2 separate regions of the Homo sapiens genome follow, and region 1 is linked to region 2. Evidence: fine-mapped expression QTL. A gene starts in region 2. The other region holds a variant in brackets. All regions are shown on one strand. Distances are between the middles of the regions.

What was found. PIP is the estimated chance that this variant, and not a neighbour inherited with it, causes the effect.
Region 1: its variant is fine-mapped to the expression of GALNTL5 in prefrontal cortex (BrainSeq, PIP 0.95).

What each region holds. Positions count from the first base shown.
Region 1 is chr7:152,002,559-152,011,178 of GRCh38, forward strand. GALNTL5 (polypeptide N-acetylgalactosaminyltransferase like 5) reads left to right here. Exons shown (of 9, transcript NM_145292.4): 6 at 156-405; 7 at 5,269-5,386. Among named protein-coding and RNA genes, the nearest start is that of GALNT11, 19 kb to the right of the region's middle. The variant G/A (reference allele first, on the strand shown) is at 4,365.
Region 2 is chr7:151,951,886-151,960,505 of GRCh38, forward strand. It overlaps GALNTL5 (polypeptide N-acetylgalactosaminyltransferase like 5), which reads left to right and starts at 4,561. Exons shown (of 9, transcript NM_145292.4): 1 at 4,561-4,724. LOC105375570 (a long non-coding RNA gene) reads right to left here and starts at 3,037. Exons shown (of 3, transcript XR_007060597.1): 1 at 2,500-3,037. It overlaps LOC105375571 (a long non-coding RNA gene), which reads right to left and starts at 4,460. Exons shown (of 2, transcript XR_928179.2): 1 at 4,366-4,460; 2 at 3,314-3,820. RefSeq lists a silencer at 1-45.

The DNA.
Region 1 (8,620 bases), 51 kb after region 2:
TGTATTTCTTGTTTCCTTCCAATGAAAATGAAAGCACTGTAAGAGCCAAACACATAGTAAATGCTCAAGAAATATTCATCACATTGAACTTTGATTTGGATTGCCGTATTTTTTCAGCTATGTGGACTAACATTGCCCTGTTCTTGCCTCCCCAGGGGATGTTCTGGTGTTCCTGGACAGCCACTGTGAGGTGAACAGAGTATGGCTGGAGCCCCTGCTGCATGCCATTGCCAAGGACCCCAAAATGGTGGTGTGCCCCCTGATAGATGTCATTGATGATAGAACTCTGGAGTATAAGCCCTCTCCTCTTGTAAGGGGAACTTTTGATTGGAACCTACAATTTAAATGGGATAATGTTTTCTCTTATGAGATGGATGGACCAGAAGGATCTACTAAACCAATCCGGTGAGATTTCTTCTGGTTTTGGAAAAATATAGCATACGTGTATTGAGACCCAGGGGGAAAAAGCCTCCAGAGATTATTCTTTCAAGTTCTTGGGCTTAATCAAAATGTTATGTTACTTGTTTCTAGAAGTCTTTAATACAGTAATAGAATTATTGTTAATAGAATCACTTAGGACTCAATATATAACGTGATATGATATTTATCTTCATATCATCTATAACTCTTTGATTCTCTGGTACTGAACACAATCCTATATGGATTCAATCATGACTTTCAGGAGCAATATTTCATTTGACTAAAAGCTCAAGTCAAACAGATCTGGTTTGAAGGAGAGACTCCATCATTTGTTAGCAGTTTAGGGCTGCCATGTACAGTTGCACCAGCTGTGCACTGCACATCTCCAGGAGATACTGTTCACACAAAGACCACAAGGTCAATGGCATGTCTGGAATTGTACATTAAGATGGCCCTCAGTTGGCACAATTACCTCTCTCAACTTCAATGTCGTCCTCATCTGTTAAACAGTGATAGTAATAATTAACACATTTCTTAGGATCGTTGAGGGGATTAAATGAGCCAATACATGTAAAACACATAGCATAAGGCTTGACACAGAGGAAGTGATCTGATCAATATCAACATTAGCTACAGTAATGTCACAGACTTTGGAACAAAGAGGAACAAAAGTGTACTTTATTGTAATAAAATGTAATATGTAGAAATCTCAACTTAATAAAAATAAACAGCATTAATCTTTTGAGTTATCTCAAAACTATTTTAAATAGTTACTTTTAGTAAGAAATAGCTATGGTGTTCCAATTACACAAACTTGGTTTATAATTTTTGTAATATTTCCATATCTCACATATAAAACATTTTTAGGCTCTAATGTAAAAATAACTGATATTCAACAGGGAAACTGTATTCCTAATATTTATTTGCTAAATGGTAAAATGTTTAGAATTCTAATACACTGCTCGTGTGTATATACATTGGATCATTCTTTTTGAAAACAATTTGGCAATGCAAATTAAGAATCTTATAAATATCCTTATTCTTTGATGCAGTAATCCACTTACTTGAATTTATTTGAAGAGAGTCAGAAATAAGCACGGAGATATATATAGTGTGTCAATATTTATATTCATAAAAAACTGAAAACAACATATTCAATACTATTGAAATGGGTAAAAAATAAAGTATATTCATTTTTATGGACTATCACATAATCATTAAAGTTAAGTTTTCAAGGGCTAATTAACTAGAAAGAAAACTTCTCATGTGTTAAATTAAAAAATCAAACCATAAAAAATGTTCTGTCAGTATACCTTTGTGTGATTAAATATGTACCTATTATATGTAATATATATTATACATATTACATATATTATAATTGTATGTTACATTAAAATATATAATATGTATAAGAAAACATAAGTTATTTTTTAAAGGTTAAAAGAAAAAATAAATTTTATTTTGTTATTTTATTGATTTATTATTATTTGTATAAATATAAGGGGTACAAGTGCAATTTTGTTATATGGCTATATTGCCTAGTGGTAAAGTCTGGACTTTCCAAGTATCCACCACTCAAACAATGTACACCGGACCCATTAAGTCACTTCTCATCATCCATTGCCCTCCTGTCACCACCCTTCTGTCTCCAATGCCTGTCAGTCCACACTCTATGTCCATGTGTATACATTATTTAGTTCCCACTTATAAATGAGAACATGTGTATTTCTCTTTCTGCTTCTGGATTGTTTCACTTAAGATAATGGCCTCCAGTTCCATCCATGTTGCAGCCAAAGACATCATTTTATTCTTTTTTATGGCTGAATAGTATTCCATTGTGTATATATACCACATTTTCTTTATCCAGTCTTCCACTGAGGGACACTTTAGTTGATCCCATGACTTTACAGTTGTGAATAGTGCTGTGATAAACATACAATGGCAGGTATCTTTTTGACACAGATGATTTCTTTCCCTTTAGGAAGATACCCAATAGTGAGAATGCTGGATTCAATGGTAGTTCTACTTTTAGTTCGTTGAGAAATCTCTGTATTGTTTTCCACAGCGGTTGTACTAATTTACATTCCTACCAACACTGTGCAAGCGTTCCCTTTTCTCCTCATCCTCGCCAGCATCTGTTACATATTAGTCATGGTATTAATTAGCATTCATATCTGAAGATACATTTTTCCCTTAGTTCTAATGACGACCAAAAAAGCTAGGTGCAATGAGTTTTGGAAAACTTAACACACACACACACAAAAAGCAAAATCATGCCTAGGGCTTAAGCCAATGATAACTCAAGACCTCCCCAGCTCCCTGACATGCAGGCATCACCATGACCAAGGATCATGCCCTTTTCCCCCAGCCACCTGCCCTTTTCTAAGGGCAGAGCAAGGCCCTTTCACTTTCTCCCTGCTGTCTCAGACCACAGCTGACTCCAACGTTTTCGGCCTGCACACCAAATGGACGGAACTGCAGTGCCCTGAGATGAGAAATACCATGAGTGGAGCAGGTTTTTGGCAGGAAGATTCTCTTTGGGGCATATTTGAGATGTCTATTTGGCATTCAAGTGGGGATGTGAAGTAGGTAGTTGGATGCAGTTGGATACATGAGTCCCTTATGAGATGGATGGGCCAGAAGGACCTACTAAACCAATCTGGTGAGATTTCTTCTGGTTTTGGAAAAATATAGAATATGTATATTGAGACCCAGGGGGAAAAAGCCTCCAGAGATTATTCTTTCAAGTTCTTAGGCTTAATCAAATTGTTCTGTTACTTGCTTCTAGAAGTCTTTAATACAGTAATAGAATTATTGTCAATAGAATTACTTAGGACTCAATCTATAACATGATATGACATTTATCTTCATATCATCTATAACTCTTTGATTCTCTGGTACTGAACACAATCCTATATGGATTCAATCATGAGTCTGGAGTTTTGAGAGAGGTCAGGGCTGGAGGCATCCTTTGGGAGTCATGGATAGGATGGATGAGAATCACTATGTGGGTGAGTGGAGAAGTGTAGAGGACCAGCCCTGAGCCCTGGGTGCTTCAACATTGACAGTTGAGAGGAGGAGAGGAACTGGCAAAGGAGATGGGAAGGAGCAACCAGGGAGGGAGGAGAAGGACCAGGAAATCTGGTTCCCTGGAGGCCCAGGGAGGCATGTGTGTCCAAGAGAAGGGTGTGGCCAGCAGCATCCAACACAGTGGCTGGATCAGCGAGAGAAGGACTGGAAATGAGCATTGGACTAAACCATGAGAAGGTCATGAACAAGTCTTAATTGTGAATGGCGGGAGGCGAAGCCTGATGGAAGGGAGTTTAAGGGAATTAGAGATAGTGATGGACAAATCTTTCTAAGGCTTTAATACGAAAGAGAGAAAAGGGGACATAACTGACAGGAAGTGGGGTCAAAATAAGGCGGTTTTAATTTTGTAATTGGCAGAGATAACAGCATGACTGGATTCTGATAGGAATGTTCCTATCTGGTGCACTCGGCAATGTGTGTCACATCTGGTGCAGTAGGCACCCCACACCCGACCCATAAGCAAATCTGTTAGCTCCATCTCCAAAATATGCCAGGAATTCAACCGCATCTTACTACCTACATTGCTGCATTCTTATCCCGGATCCCATTATTTTTCTCTGCAGCCCCTCTAATTGGCTTCCCTACCCTTTCCCCTACACATGGGTCTTGGTTTGTGTGTTGAGTGACTCATATCCCTAAAACATAGGTGCTCAATAAATACTTATTTGAACAAATGAATGTAAACTTGTGATTATTTTTCTTTTTCTTTTTTTTGGGGGGGGCGGGACAGATTCTCACTCTGTTGCCCAGGCTGGAGTGCAGTGGTGCGATCTCAGCTCACTGCAGCCTCCCAGGTTCAAGCGATTCTCATGCCACAGTGTCCTGGGTAGCTGGGATTACAGGCGCGGGCAACT[G/A]CATCTGGCTAATTTTTGTATTTTTCGTAGAGATGGGGTTTCACCATGTTGGCCAGGCTGGTCTTGAACTCCTGACCTCAAATGATCCACCAGCCTCAGCCTCCCAAGTGTTGGGATTACAGGTGTGAGCCACCACACCCAGCTGTGACTATTTTCAAACTACTTAGTTTGGTATTATTTGGCCCTACTATTGGTGGACAAAACAAGATGCTTCTTAATATTATGGTTTGTCCAGAAGTAAATATTACAATTCACCTAATGTCTTTAGAAAGGGAGAGCTCTGAGCCCTGCTACCCAGTTCAATTGTCATCCTCATGGGAAACTTACATTCCAAATATCATTTTCCTTCTCATTAGGAAAACATTTAGAATATATCGCATACACATTTTGGTGAGAACTAAGTAAAAGTTATTGCCTACTTTTGTTGTGGTTTTTAGTAATTTTATATACTTAAATGTATAATAGGATAATTTTAGTATTAATGTTTTCTCTTTTTTTTTTTTTTTTTTTTTTGAGACAGAGTCTGGCTCTGTCGTCCCAGGCTGGAGTGCTGTGGCACGATCTCAGCTCACTGCAACCTCTGCCTCCCAGGTACAAGCGATTCTCCTGCCTCAGCCTCCCGAGTAGCTGGGACTACAGGCGCATGCCACCTTGCCTGGCTAATTTTTTGTATTTTTAGTAGAGACGGGGTTTCACTGTGTTAGCCAGGATGGTCTCGATCTCCTGAACTCGTAATGCACCCGCCTCGGCCTCCCAAAGTGCTGGGATTACAGGCATGAGCCTCCACACCCGGCCTGTTTTCTCATTTTAAACTATAAGTTATTACTAATTTAATATAATTTTGAGGAAACTACAGAATGACTTTCTCTGTGAAATTAATTTCATATTTATGTCCCCTTTCTAGGTCACCTGCAATGTCTGGAGGAATTTTTGCTATACGTCGGCATTATTTTAATGAAATTGGACAGTATGACAAGGATATGGATTTTTGGGGAAGAGAAAATTTGGAACTTTCACTAAGGGTAATTCAGATTTCATTTTTAAAATAGCTATAGAGAGTGAAACCTAACTTTGTCACATACAATGCTGTGGTAATTATGCTCAATTTTCCTACATGAACATCCAGTACCATTCCAGCAGCACATGCAATAAACAATTTATGGGGCTCCTTGTAAAAATGGAAAACATTTAATAAAATATTAGATTCTTGGCCTGGTGTGGTGGCTCATGCCTGTAATCTCAGCACTTTGGGAGGCTGAGGCAAGTGGATTGTTTGAAGCCAGGAGTTCAAGACCAGCCTCAGCAACATAGCAAGACCCCCATCTCTACTTTTTTTTTTTATGAGATGTGGTCTCGCTATGTTGCCCAGGGTGGTCTTGAACTCCTGAGCTCAAGTAATCCTCCCATCTCGGCCTCCCAAAGCACTGAGATTACAGGTGTGAGCTACTGTGCCTAGACTCTACTTCTTAAAATAAATATATTTAATTTAATTTAAAAATATTTGGTTCTTATACCATATGTTTTGTTATTTCTGATGTATGGTATATCAAATTAATATAATATTTTAAATCTATTGTCTTTATTGTCTCAGTAGTTGTGTTTTTTCCAATTTTTTCTGTTTTGGATTTTATTTTCTCTCTCTTTTCCTTCCTTCTTTTGGCCAGTTATTTGTTCACTTTTAAAGTTCCCAAGCAGACTTCTTTCATAATGCTTCAGATACTTGATTATGCATATAAAAATATCTAGAACAATATAGTTTCCTCCAAGCCTCTATCTGATGGTCCCTCTTAAGCTTGTTGTTTTTGTTGTTTGTTTGTTTGTTTGTTTGCTTGCTTTGTTTTTTTCATTCTCATGTTCCCTTTGGACGTAGGCATTATTTTATAACGCTCATGCCTTTGGCGCATTTTATTCTGTTTAGTTGATTATTCCTTGTTTTATTATATTGCACTCTAAGAAAATGGCTCAAGGAGTTCACCTCCTTTCAGGATCTAATAACTGTGATCAGTTTTGTGTATTATACAGGCAGAGTTGGAGAGTCAGTATATTCCTTTTTCTGGCCCTACATTCCCTATAGATAGCAAATGACAACTAATTTATTATTCAAACATTAATTATTCCTACTCCAATATTTCAATGGCGCCTTTCCTGATGGCCTGTCATATCTTTTAAATATACTTGGGTGTCTTTTTATAAAGAAGTATGTAAATTAATAAGTAGCTGAAATATTCTCTTGACACTGGCAGCTGTCTCTAACCACGACAAGTAACCTTGTCTTTCCTGAGAAAAGAATGATCTCTGCACCTGCATACACCTCTTCATTTCTCGTTTACTCCTCATTCCAGTAAATCGATATCCTGGAAGGCCCTCAGCTTTCCGTGACATCGTTCCAGGAACTGCCACCAGTTTTGTAGTGATGTCCTTAATGGATGGCTTTTGATCTTCCATCTATCTGAGGTCATTGCAGCATCTGACACTAAACTGTCTTTTCTGGAAGTTTTCTTGGACGTTAGGACAATATTCCTGGTTTGCCTTCCATTGCTCAGTTGTTCTCAGTTTCCTTTGTAGGAATTTCTGCTGTGGCTCATCTCTTAGACACAGGTGTCCCCAAGGTTTCCATCCTTGTCAGACTTTGCTTCTTACCCCATGTGCTCTTCAGGGCTCAGGGCTAGCATCCAGGTCCTCTGCTCCTGTGAAGCCACACTGGTTGTTAACATAATGCAGTCTTTCTGCATCTGGTGTGAAAAAACCTCTACTCTGAGCCAACCAAATACCTTCCACCTGCAGCCCAACCATAGGTCTACGCTCCCTGGACCTTCCCATGTTCCAGTAACTAAGGGAATAGCACTTGGCAGGGCAAGTCTACTCTGATCGCCGAGGGTCTGTGCCACACCCTTGTTGATATTTTTAGTAGGATACTTGCATCAGTCCCCATGGCTGTAACTAATACCTGTATCACGATAATATCCAACTCTATAGTTTCAGTTTAGGACTATCTCTTGAGAGTAATATTTAAGCTCAATCTAGCCATCATTTAAGGAGCACTTCCTTTAAGTCAAACTGTGCTGTATGCTGAGCATTGAGAAGAAGACACAGTCTTCATTAATTCATCCATGCAACAATATGTATTGAGTACTGTTATGTATGAAGCACTGTGCTGGGTGCTAAAATACAGTGGCACACAATACGAAAGTGGCTTCTTTTTTTTTTTTGAGACGGAGTCTTGCTCTGTCGCCAGGCTGGAGTGCAGTGGCACGATCTTGGCTCACTGCAATCTCCGCCTCCCAGGTTCAAGCGATTCCCCTGCCTCAGCCTCCCGAGTAGTTGGGACTACAGACATGCACCACAACACCTGGCTAATTGTTTGTATTTTAGTAGAGATGGGGTTTCACCATGTTGGCCAGGATGGTCTTGATCTTCTGACCTTGTGATCCGCCTGCCTCGGCCTCCCAAAGTGCTGGGATTACAGGCACAAGCCACCGCGTCCAGCCAAAAGTGCTTCTAATGTCATGAATCTTCTATCTATTGAGTAGGGTGAGATTATCAGATATTTAATTTTATTTTTGGCCCAGGTGCGGCAGCTCACACCTATAATCCCAGCACTTGGGGAGGCCAAAGTAGGTGGATCACCTGAGGTCAGGAGTTTGAGACCAGCCTGGCTAACATGGTGAAACCCCGTCTCTTCTAATAATACAAAAATTAGCTGGGCATGGTGGTACACGTCTGTAATCCCAGCTACTCAGGAAGCTGAGGCACGAGAATTGCTTGAACCTGGGAGGTGGAGGTTACAGTGAGCCGAGATCGTGCCACTGCATTCCAGCCTGGGCGGACAGAGCGAGACTCTGTCTCAAAAAAAAAAAAAATTATTTTTGATAAATGCAATAGAAAAATACAGAGTATTATGGGACCCTCTAAAAGGAGAACCTAGCCTTCTCTTGGGGGATTATGTGTCTTAGATGGCTTCCCTGAAGAACTGACATTTAAGATACATGTAAAGGATAAAATATATTTTATTTAACAAGTTCTTATATCTGACATGCACTGCTCTAAAATCTTACAGATATTAACTCATTTAATCCTCCTAACAAACCTGTAAGGTAAGTACCACCATTATCTCTGACTTCTAGTGGAGAAACCGAGCCACAGAGAGGTTGAGTAACTTGCCCAAATTCACAGAACTAGTAAGCACTCTGCTCCCAACCTGTTGCTTCCTGCCTCATGCTGTCTACTCAACTTCAGGTCTTGAGACCCCACCAGCT
Region 2 (8,620 bases):
GTAGAAGGTCTGACCACTTCTTAAAAGACTAAACACTCCTGGGTGTTTACTCAAGAGAACCGAAAGCGTCAGTCCATAAAAACATGAACGAGAATTTCAGAATAGCTTTATTCGTAAAGGCTCCAAACTGGAAACAGTGTGGTGCTATCAACTGAATTGCATCCCCCTCAAATTCATATGTTGAAATCCTGACCCCTAGTACCTTAGAATGGTACTGACTGTGTTTAAAGATAAGGCCTTTAAAGAGGCAGTTAAGTTAAAATGAGGTTGTTAGAGTGAGCCTTAATACAATCGGATTGGTGCCCTTTTAAGAAGAGGACATTACAACACCCAGAGAGAGAACCCCACGGGTGTGTGCACACCTAAGAAAGAGCATGTGAGGACAAAGCAAGAAGGTGGCCAACTGCAAGCCAAGGAGAGAGTCCTCAGAGGAATCCAACCCCACTGGCAGCTTAATCTTGGACTTGTAGCCTCCAGAGCTATGAGAAATTAATTTCAGGCCAGGTTCAATGACTCACGCCTGTAATCCCAGCACTTTAGGAGGCCAAGGTGGGCAGATTATAAGGTCAGGAGTTCAAGACCAGCCTGGCATGGTGGCCAACATGGTGAAACCCCATCTCTACTAAAAATACAAAGATTGCCCATGTCTATAATCCCAGCTACTCGGGAGGCTGAAGGAGAAGAATTGCTTGAACCCAGAAGGCAGAGGTTGCAGTGAGCTGAGATCGCGCCTCTGCACTCCAGTCTGGGTGACAGAACGAGAGACTCTGTCTACAAAAAAAAAAAAAAAAAAAAAAAATTAATTTTGGTTGTTAAACCACCAAGCCTTTAGTACTTTGTTATGGCAGCCTGAGCAAACTAAACTACCCAGGTATTCATGACCAAAATAATGAAAAAACAAATGGTATGGTATGATTTTAATGATAAAAATCTACTCACCAATAAAAAGTAAACTACTGATACATGAAACAATAAGTCTCAAAAATATTATGCTGAATGAAAGAAACCTTACACAAGGTTTCCTACCACTTATCATATCCTTTCAGTTACATGAAATTCTATAGCAGGCAAAACTAATATATGGTAAATAAAATCAGAATAGTGCTTGCTTCTGGGGCCAGATGGTAATGGGCACTGACAGCAGAGAAGGACCGTGTAGGAACTTTCTAGGTTCTGTAATTTTTAAAAGGGTTCAGTTACACAGGAGTATGGGCTTGTTAGCCTGAGAAACAGAACCAGTAAGAGAAACACATGAAGAAATGTATTGCCAGGAGTTGGCTGGTGCACAACGGTAGGGGCTGGCAAGGCAAGTCTGAAATCGGTAGGGCAAGCCCTAAGGAAGGGCTGTTCATGACTCGTTTTCCTTTCCCTTGGGAAAAATCTTGGAAATAAAAATTCTATGGTGTAGCTGCTTTATAAAACAGTCTGGCAATTACTCAAAAAATTAAACCTGGAGTTACCACATGCAACTCTACTCCTATGTGTATACTCAAGAGAACTGAAAACTTATGTCCACACAGAAATGTGTACAGGAATATTCATAGCAGTACTATTTATAACACCCCCAAAGTGGAAACCAGCTAAATATTCACCAGTTGATGAATAGATAAATAAAATGGGGTATTTTCAAACAACAGCTCATTATTCAGGCATAAAAAGGAATGAAATACTGACAAATGCCACAAAATGGATGAAAGGTGAATTGTACGAGATGTAATATCTCAATTAAAAAATAAAGTTCCAGGCCGGGTGAGGTGGCTCATGCCTGTAATCTCAGCACTGAGGCTGAGGGGAGTGGATCACGAGGTCAGGAGTTCGAGACCAGCCTGGCCAACATGGCGAAACCCCATCTCTACTAAATATGCAAAAATTAGCTGAGCGCAGTGGCGTGCACCTGTAGTCCCAGCTACCTGAGAGGCTGAGGCAGGAGAATGGCAAGAACCCGGGAGGCGGAGCTTGCAGTGAACTGAGATCTTGCCCCTGCACTCCAGCCTGGGCGACAGAGTGAGACTCTGTCTCAAAAAAAGTTCGGGCACAGTAGATCATGCCTGTAATTGCAGCACTTTGGGAGGCCAAGGTGGGAGGATAGCTTGAGCCCAGGAATTCGAGACCAGCCTGAGCAACATAGCGAGGTCTTGCCTTTACGAAAACTAATATAAAATAAAAAAATTAGCTGGGTGTGGTGGCACATTCCTGCAGTCCCAGCCACTTAAGAGGTTGAGGCAGGAAGATTGCTTCAGCCTGAGAGGTCAAGGCTGCAGTGAGCCATGATCACACCAGCAGTGGTGTGATCCAGCCTGGGCAACAGAGCAAGACTCTGTCTCAAATATATAAATAAAAATATAAATAAATAAACACAATTTGAACTATTGTCCTTGAATACGGTATATGTGCACCTTTCTCAGAAAGAAAGATTTTACTTTATTACACCAAGCAAACTGTGTAATGGTTGCAAAACTCCCACAATAAAATCTTTGTCCAAAAGTTGTGTTGACTCACTTTTTTTCCCTCGTGTTTTGAGGATACGACATACATACAGTGAAGTATATACACTTTCAGTGACCAGCCCAATGCACGTTTGTACAAGTAGGCTCCGTGAAGCCTTCACTCCCCCAGATCAAGAAGACCCAGAACATTCCAGCACTCCAAAAGGCTCTCTCTTGCTCCCTCTCAGTAACCAGCAATCCTGTTCTGGCTCCCAAACACAGCTACTTGTTACTGATAGATAGATAAACTGTTCTATCACTTTAGAGTAGCTTTGCCTTTTCTTGCTCCCTTCCACATGCTGTAGGAATTTGGGTTGTGACCTCAGCAAGCCCTCGTTCTGCAGAAACTTCACAGAAATAGAATCGCGCTCTCCCATGAGCTGCTTCGGTCTCACGCCATGTCTGCGAGATGCATCCATGTTGTATGCAGCTGCAGTCTGGTCTTTTTCACTGCTGGTTTGCATTGCATTATATGAATATGCCACAGTGGGTCCATTCTACTACAGATGGACATTTGGGTTTTTTCCAGTTTGAGGCTAATATGAATAAAAGCTTACTTTTATATTATTAATGGGCAAGAAGGACCTTCCCATCGAGCCTGCAGAAAGGAGACTCATGAGTTTGGCTTGGACGTCATTAATGCCCGTCCGTCTGCCCCAGGAGGTCATTATAGCCCATTATGTTGTTACCGAGCAAAAGAGGTCACTGACCCGTGCGCTAGAAGCCAATAAATACTAAGACACTGGGTTTCAGAGAAAAGAAAAGCTTTTCATTGCAAATTGACCAACACGGAGACAGGAGTCCAGCTCAAATCTGTCTCGCTGTGCTGCCTTTAAGGAAATAATTTTATTAGAAAAGGGTTAGAGGGTGGGTTCCGGGATTAGCAGGAGATCGGTGGAAGGAAAGAGGAGGTCTGGCAAGTCCTCAGACATGCGCAGTTATCTCTTCATGCTTCCTCATGGGTGCTGTGTGCAAATCAAATTCCGGGGCAGTTAATACGAAACATGCGTGGAAATTCAGGCTGTGATATCAGCAAGCTCTTTCTGCAGAAACTCCAGTTGGCCATATTGGGTCCAACTGATTTCTGCCAGTTTTGTTATCACTTGTCACAGTTTCAGTATCTACCCCAGGAGGTCACGATTGCCCATTGTGTCTGTCCCAGGAGAGGTTGCGAGAGGTTCCCACCCACCCCCTTCCACTCACAGACCCTGAAGCAGAGCTTGTCTGGTTTCAGGCAAAACAGAGTCAGCATCCTGAAGCGGGGAGGGTCAAGTCTCCTGGGATGCGTTCAGAAGAAATTTCACAAGCATTTGGCTGAACTTGTGTACTGACATCTAAATGTTGAGTAACGTAGAGTAAAGAATTAAAAGGCAATCAAATAACCCTTTGGCTCATCTTTAAGTTTCTTCATGTTTTCTGAAAGCTTGTTCTTTTTCTTAAGTTTATTTCAAAAATGCTAAAAATTAGCCGGGCGCGGTGGCTCACGCCTGTAATCCCAGCACTTTGGGAGGCCGAGTCGGGCCGATCACGAGGTCCGGAGATGGAGACCATCCTGGCTAACACGGTGAAACCCCATCTCTATTAAAAATACAAAAAATTAGCCGGGCGTGGTGGTGGGCGCCTGTAGTCCCAGCTACTCCGGAGGCTGAGACAGGAGAATGGCGTGAACCCGGGAGGCGGAGCTTGCAGTGAGCGGAGATCGCAGAGATTGCAGAGATTGCACCACTGCACTCCATCCTGGGGGACAGAGCGAGACTCCATCTCAAAAATAAATAAATAAATAAATAAATAAATAAATAAATAAATAAATAAATAAATATAAAAAGCTAAAAATTAGGCCTTGCCTAGAGAAGAGAGTCACCCTGGATTCTAGCCTCACCTAATATGAGGCTTTCCCTATTTTCTCAGCTGAGGGGTAAGGACCCTTAGGACCTTGGAACTCCTGGATTCCACCTGCTGGTTGGAGCTTACAGGCAGGGGCCCCTGTGGGGCTGTGACGCCCTGTGTGATGTCATCAGGCTTTGTGAGGGGGACTGTACTGCCCTTTGAGTACTACTGTGTGGCCCCGCAACCCAGCACAACCAGGTATCTGCTTGGAACCCAGCCACCATAAAGCCTGCTAGCTAAAAAAAATTTTACATCTCTCAGTTCATTCGGCACAGACCCCTGCCTCATTCAGCTGTGACTCTGCTTGGAAAATTCATCAGTTACAAAGCAGCCAATGCAATTATCTCAAGGGTAGGTGAAGTGAGCCCCATGTGCTAGAAGTGGGAACAAAGATGGGGGGAAACGTCTTTCACTTTGAATCAGCGGAAGCAGTACATCAAATCACTGCGTCTTGAAGGAGGTGCTAGCTCTGGGGATTAGGTTTAAGAAGATTTATTTTATTTTTTAAAGAAGGAGTAGCCTCCTAGCTGGTTACACCACCCTAAACGTGGACTGGGCATTGTAATGGCTTTAGTTCATGAAAAATAGGGAAACTTTTCATTACATGTGTCTTTATGCTGGTAATGTTTATACAGTGACTGTATTACTTATTTGAAAAAAATAGGGAAATAAAGGCCCTTAGCAGTGTCATAAAGTCCTAGATCTTATATGGAGATCAGTATTAAGATGGTCCTAGGAAAGCTAGGGGTTAAAAATGCTGATTATAAACTGGGCACGGCAGCTGGCATCTGTAATTCCAGCTCCTGGGAGGCTAAGGTGGCAGGACCATGTGAGTCCAGGAGTTCAAGATCAGCTTGGATGAAAGAGTGAGACTCTGTCTCGAGAAAAAAAAAAAAAAAAAGGAAAAAAAGTGTTGATTATTGACAGAAGAATTAGTTGTGATATTATCTAAAGCATGGTCATGTTTTCCTGATTCAATAGACTCGTATTTTTTTAAAAACTTGGCCAGGCATGGTAGCTCATGCCTGTAATCCCAGCACTTTTGGGGGCCAAGGCAGAAGGATCACTTGAGCTCAGGAGTTTGAGACCAGCCTGGGCAACATAGCAAGACCTCATCTCTATTTAAAAAAAAAAAAAAAAAACAGGCGTGGTGGCACTCACCAGCCTGTAGTACCAGCTACTTGGGAGGCTGAAAGAGGAGGATCATTTGAGCCTGGGAAGTCAAGGCTGCAGTGAGCTGTAATTGGGCCACTGCACCCCAACCTGGGCAGCAGAGCGAGACCCTGTCTCAAAAAAAAAAAAGAAAAGAAAAAAAAAAAGAAAGAAACTCAATGACTGTAAATGCAGATTTAGGCTAGGGTTTTGGCGTGTTGGTGGGGGCATGTTGGTGACTATTAGCTGCATTCTTTTCTCTACAGGATTCTTTTGATCATCTGCTAAGTCTCTTTAATGCACTTAAAATTTTATTTGCTGTACATATGAATCCTCGTTGAAATATATTTTACAAATTCTGTGCTTTTCTAGCATTGAATTCTGCATCTTTTAGTGAAGAAAATAACTGAACATGGTTTTCTTCTGAAGACACAAAGTCCAAAGGCCAATCACACACCTCTTACATCGATCTCTTGATAGGAGGGGTTTTCTGTGTTTTGTGGGAGTATAGGGGGTGGGTTGGGAGGTGAGGTGCTTGTCACAGAGAAAACATAATATAAGAACTCATATTAGTAAAATAAGAAAATTAAGGAGGTTGGGGATATGTTCATAAGTGTTCACGTCTAAAGAGAATTCCCCCCAAGTTTTCCTGATGTATTAGAATCTTTCTAGAGAATAATTTATTTTTCAGTAATAATCCTATTGAGACAGGATTCTTTCAATGTCACTTTGCCAGCTGGACATTTCCCGGCTGGCAGCACCCGTCCTTGGGCCTCACTTGGCTCTAGGCTCACCTCTGGGCTTGCTCTCCCCACTGGACGCAGCAGGCTGCACTCGGCTGGCACTACCGACCTAGATTCTGCACACACACACCACTCTGTGCTTAGCCCATGGCTGGTCTGAGTGTGCCACAACCATCTTCCACCTTGGGCACCAGCATCTGGATGAGGGGGAACATGGTGGTGCCTGAAAACTCAGAGATGCCAACCGCCACAGAGCCCCAAGGGGTGTTACAGCTCTCACCTGGGGAGTCCCAAGGTCTGAGCCCCCAAGGACTGTTACAGCTCTCTGTCTCCTTCCTGCCACCTGCAGCATAGTGAAACGGGGTTGGGGAGGGGGGTGTGTTATGGCTTGTTTGGTTGCGGCAAACAGTGCAAGGGGTGTGTTGCAGCTCATTTGTGCTACAGCTCATTCTGTCCCACCATCCTGCTCCAGCCCACTGGTGCTCCTAGGCTGGCCCAGCCCTACCACCACTTCCCATGATGTGGGGTGGCCATCTGGCACTGGCAGAAGGTGGGAAGGTTACAGTGTTACAGCTCCTTTTGCACCCATCATTCGGTGGGTCCCAGGTCCTTGTCCTGCGTCCAAGAAGAATGAGGTTACACAGACACTGGAGAGTCAGCAAGGCAGAGAAGGGTTTTATTGAGCAACAGAACAGCTCTTGACACAAGAGGGGATCCAAAGTGGGTAGCCCTCTGTGTGAGAGGGGGCTCAAAGATGGATAGTCCCAACATGGGGCTGAGTCTGGGGTTTTCATGGGCTCAGAATGGGGAAGTACATGCTGGAAAGAGCACCAGTCCTTCCAGGTGGGCCTGGAAATAACACCATTTGATTGGCTACAAGGCATTGAGGAAGTTCTCACTCCGGTCGTGGACTCTGGCAACTCAGTTTTCAGGCTTTAAGCTGTCTTTGGCTTGAAGGTTGGATTTCACTGGGGACCTGCCCCTCTCTGCCTAGGAATTTGTCTGTCTCCTGTTGCTATCACTATCATATTAGTGCATGTGTTTATTTTGTATATTACATTTGGTTGTCTCCCCTTACCTTTTTTTTTTAACTAGTTTCTAATTGCTTTTGGTTTTTGGAGAAAGTTGACATGGAAGTTAACTTTAGATAACTTTAAAATTTAGATATTTAATAGGGAGATATGGTGGTAATGTAAATTAAAACAGCTTTATTCTCTTTTCAGGCGTCCTAATTCGCCATTTTCCCTAGTTAGAAGTTGCCTTCTTCTCTTTATATATTTGATACTTTTAATTGGCATAATCAAATATTTCATTTGTAAAGTGCTATTTATTCAATCAATGAATCTCTATTTTGCACCCAGGATCTTGGCCAGAGTGTTAAAGCCTGTGTCCTGGGGGATATTCCTGTTGTAATAAATGCTCCCAAATCAAAATTTACATTCCCCCTCCCTTAATCTGTATCCTCTGGACTCAGTCCCATATATACACCCTGCGTGCCTGCTGGTTCAAGATGGCTGATTCTGCAGCTCCTTTGGGAACACTCTCCTTCTTCCCTTAGCAGGGTAGCAGTTTCCCACACAGGCTAAGTTGTAATGTGACCCTACTTATTGATCTGGTGGCCAGGAGGGTACTGGGGGGAAGGTCCTGAGGCAGGGCACGTGTTGCCTTGCAAAGCAGAGGAGGAGAGCTAGCCTTGTTGGGGAGCAGTGGGCCATTTCTGTAGGCTCAGAGGGTTCCTGTGGACCTGGGCCTTCCAGGTCTCTGGCGTGTCTCTACCCAGACATCCCCATCCCACGTGTCAGAGCCTTCCTCCTTCCCTGGATAGAAGACCAGCCAGGCTTGAGAATTCAACCTTCCCTGGAGTTCTGCTGCCCAGATAATCAGGCCCTGGGCATGATCCTCAGCTCTCCCCGCCCTTCGGTTGTAGGAAATGAGATCCTTCATATGCTAACAAGGGCCTCTGACTCTGTTAATTTGCTTTAAATTGGTGATTACCACCCTCAGCCTTCCTTGCCTTTTTCAGATGCAACCATGGCATCCGGCAATAGCCATCTACCTTGCAATATTTATAATTACTCCTCCCTGTTCCTCAGTCAAGCGCACCAACCAGAAAATTCCTTTCCACCTATATTCCATCCTGATTCACAGCCAGTGAGATTTTAACAAGCACATATCAGCCACAGTATGCCAGGGGCTTTCAGAACACCACCTTTCCACCAGCAATGGGATGCTCAGGGCCAGCCGCCTGGAGGGTGGCTTAGCCCTAAAATCCCCTTTACAGCCCATTTTCCTGGACCATTAGCAACCATCATACTAGGTCAAGTTCCCCAGGAAGAAGACTATTCGACTAAG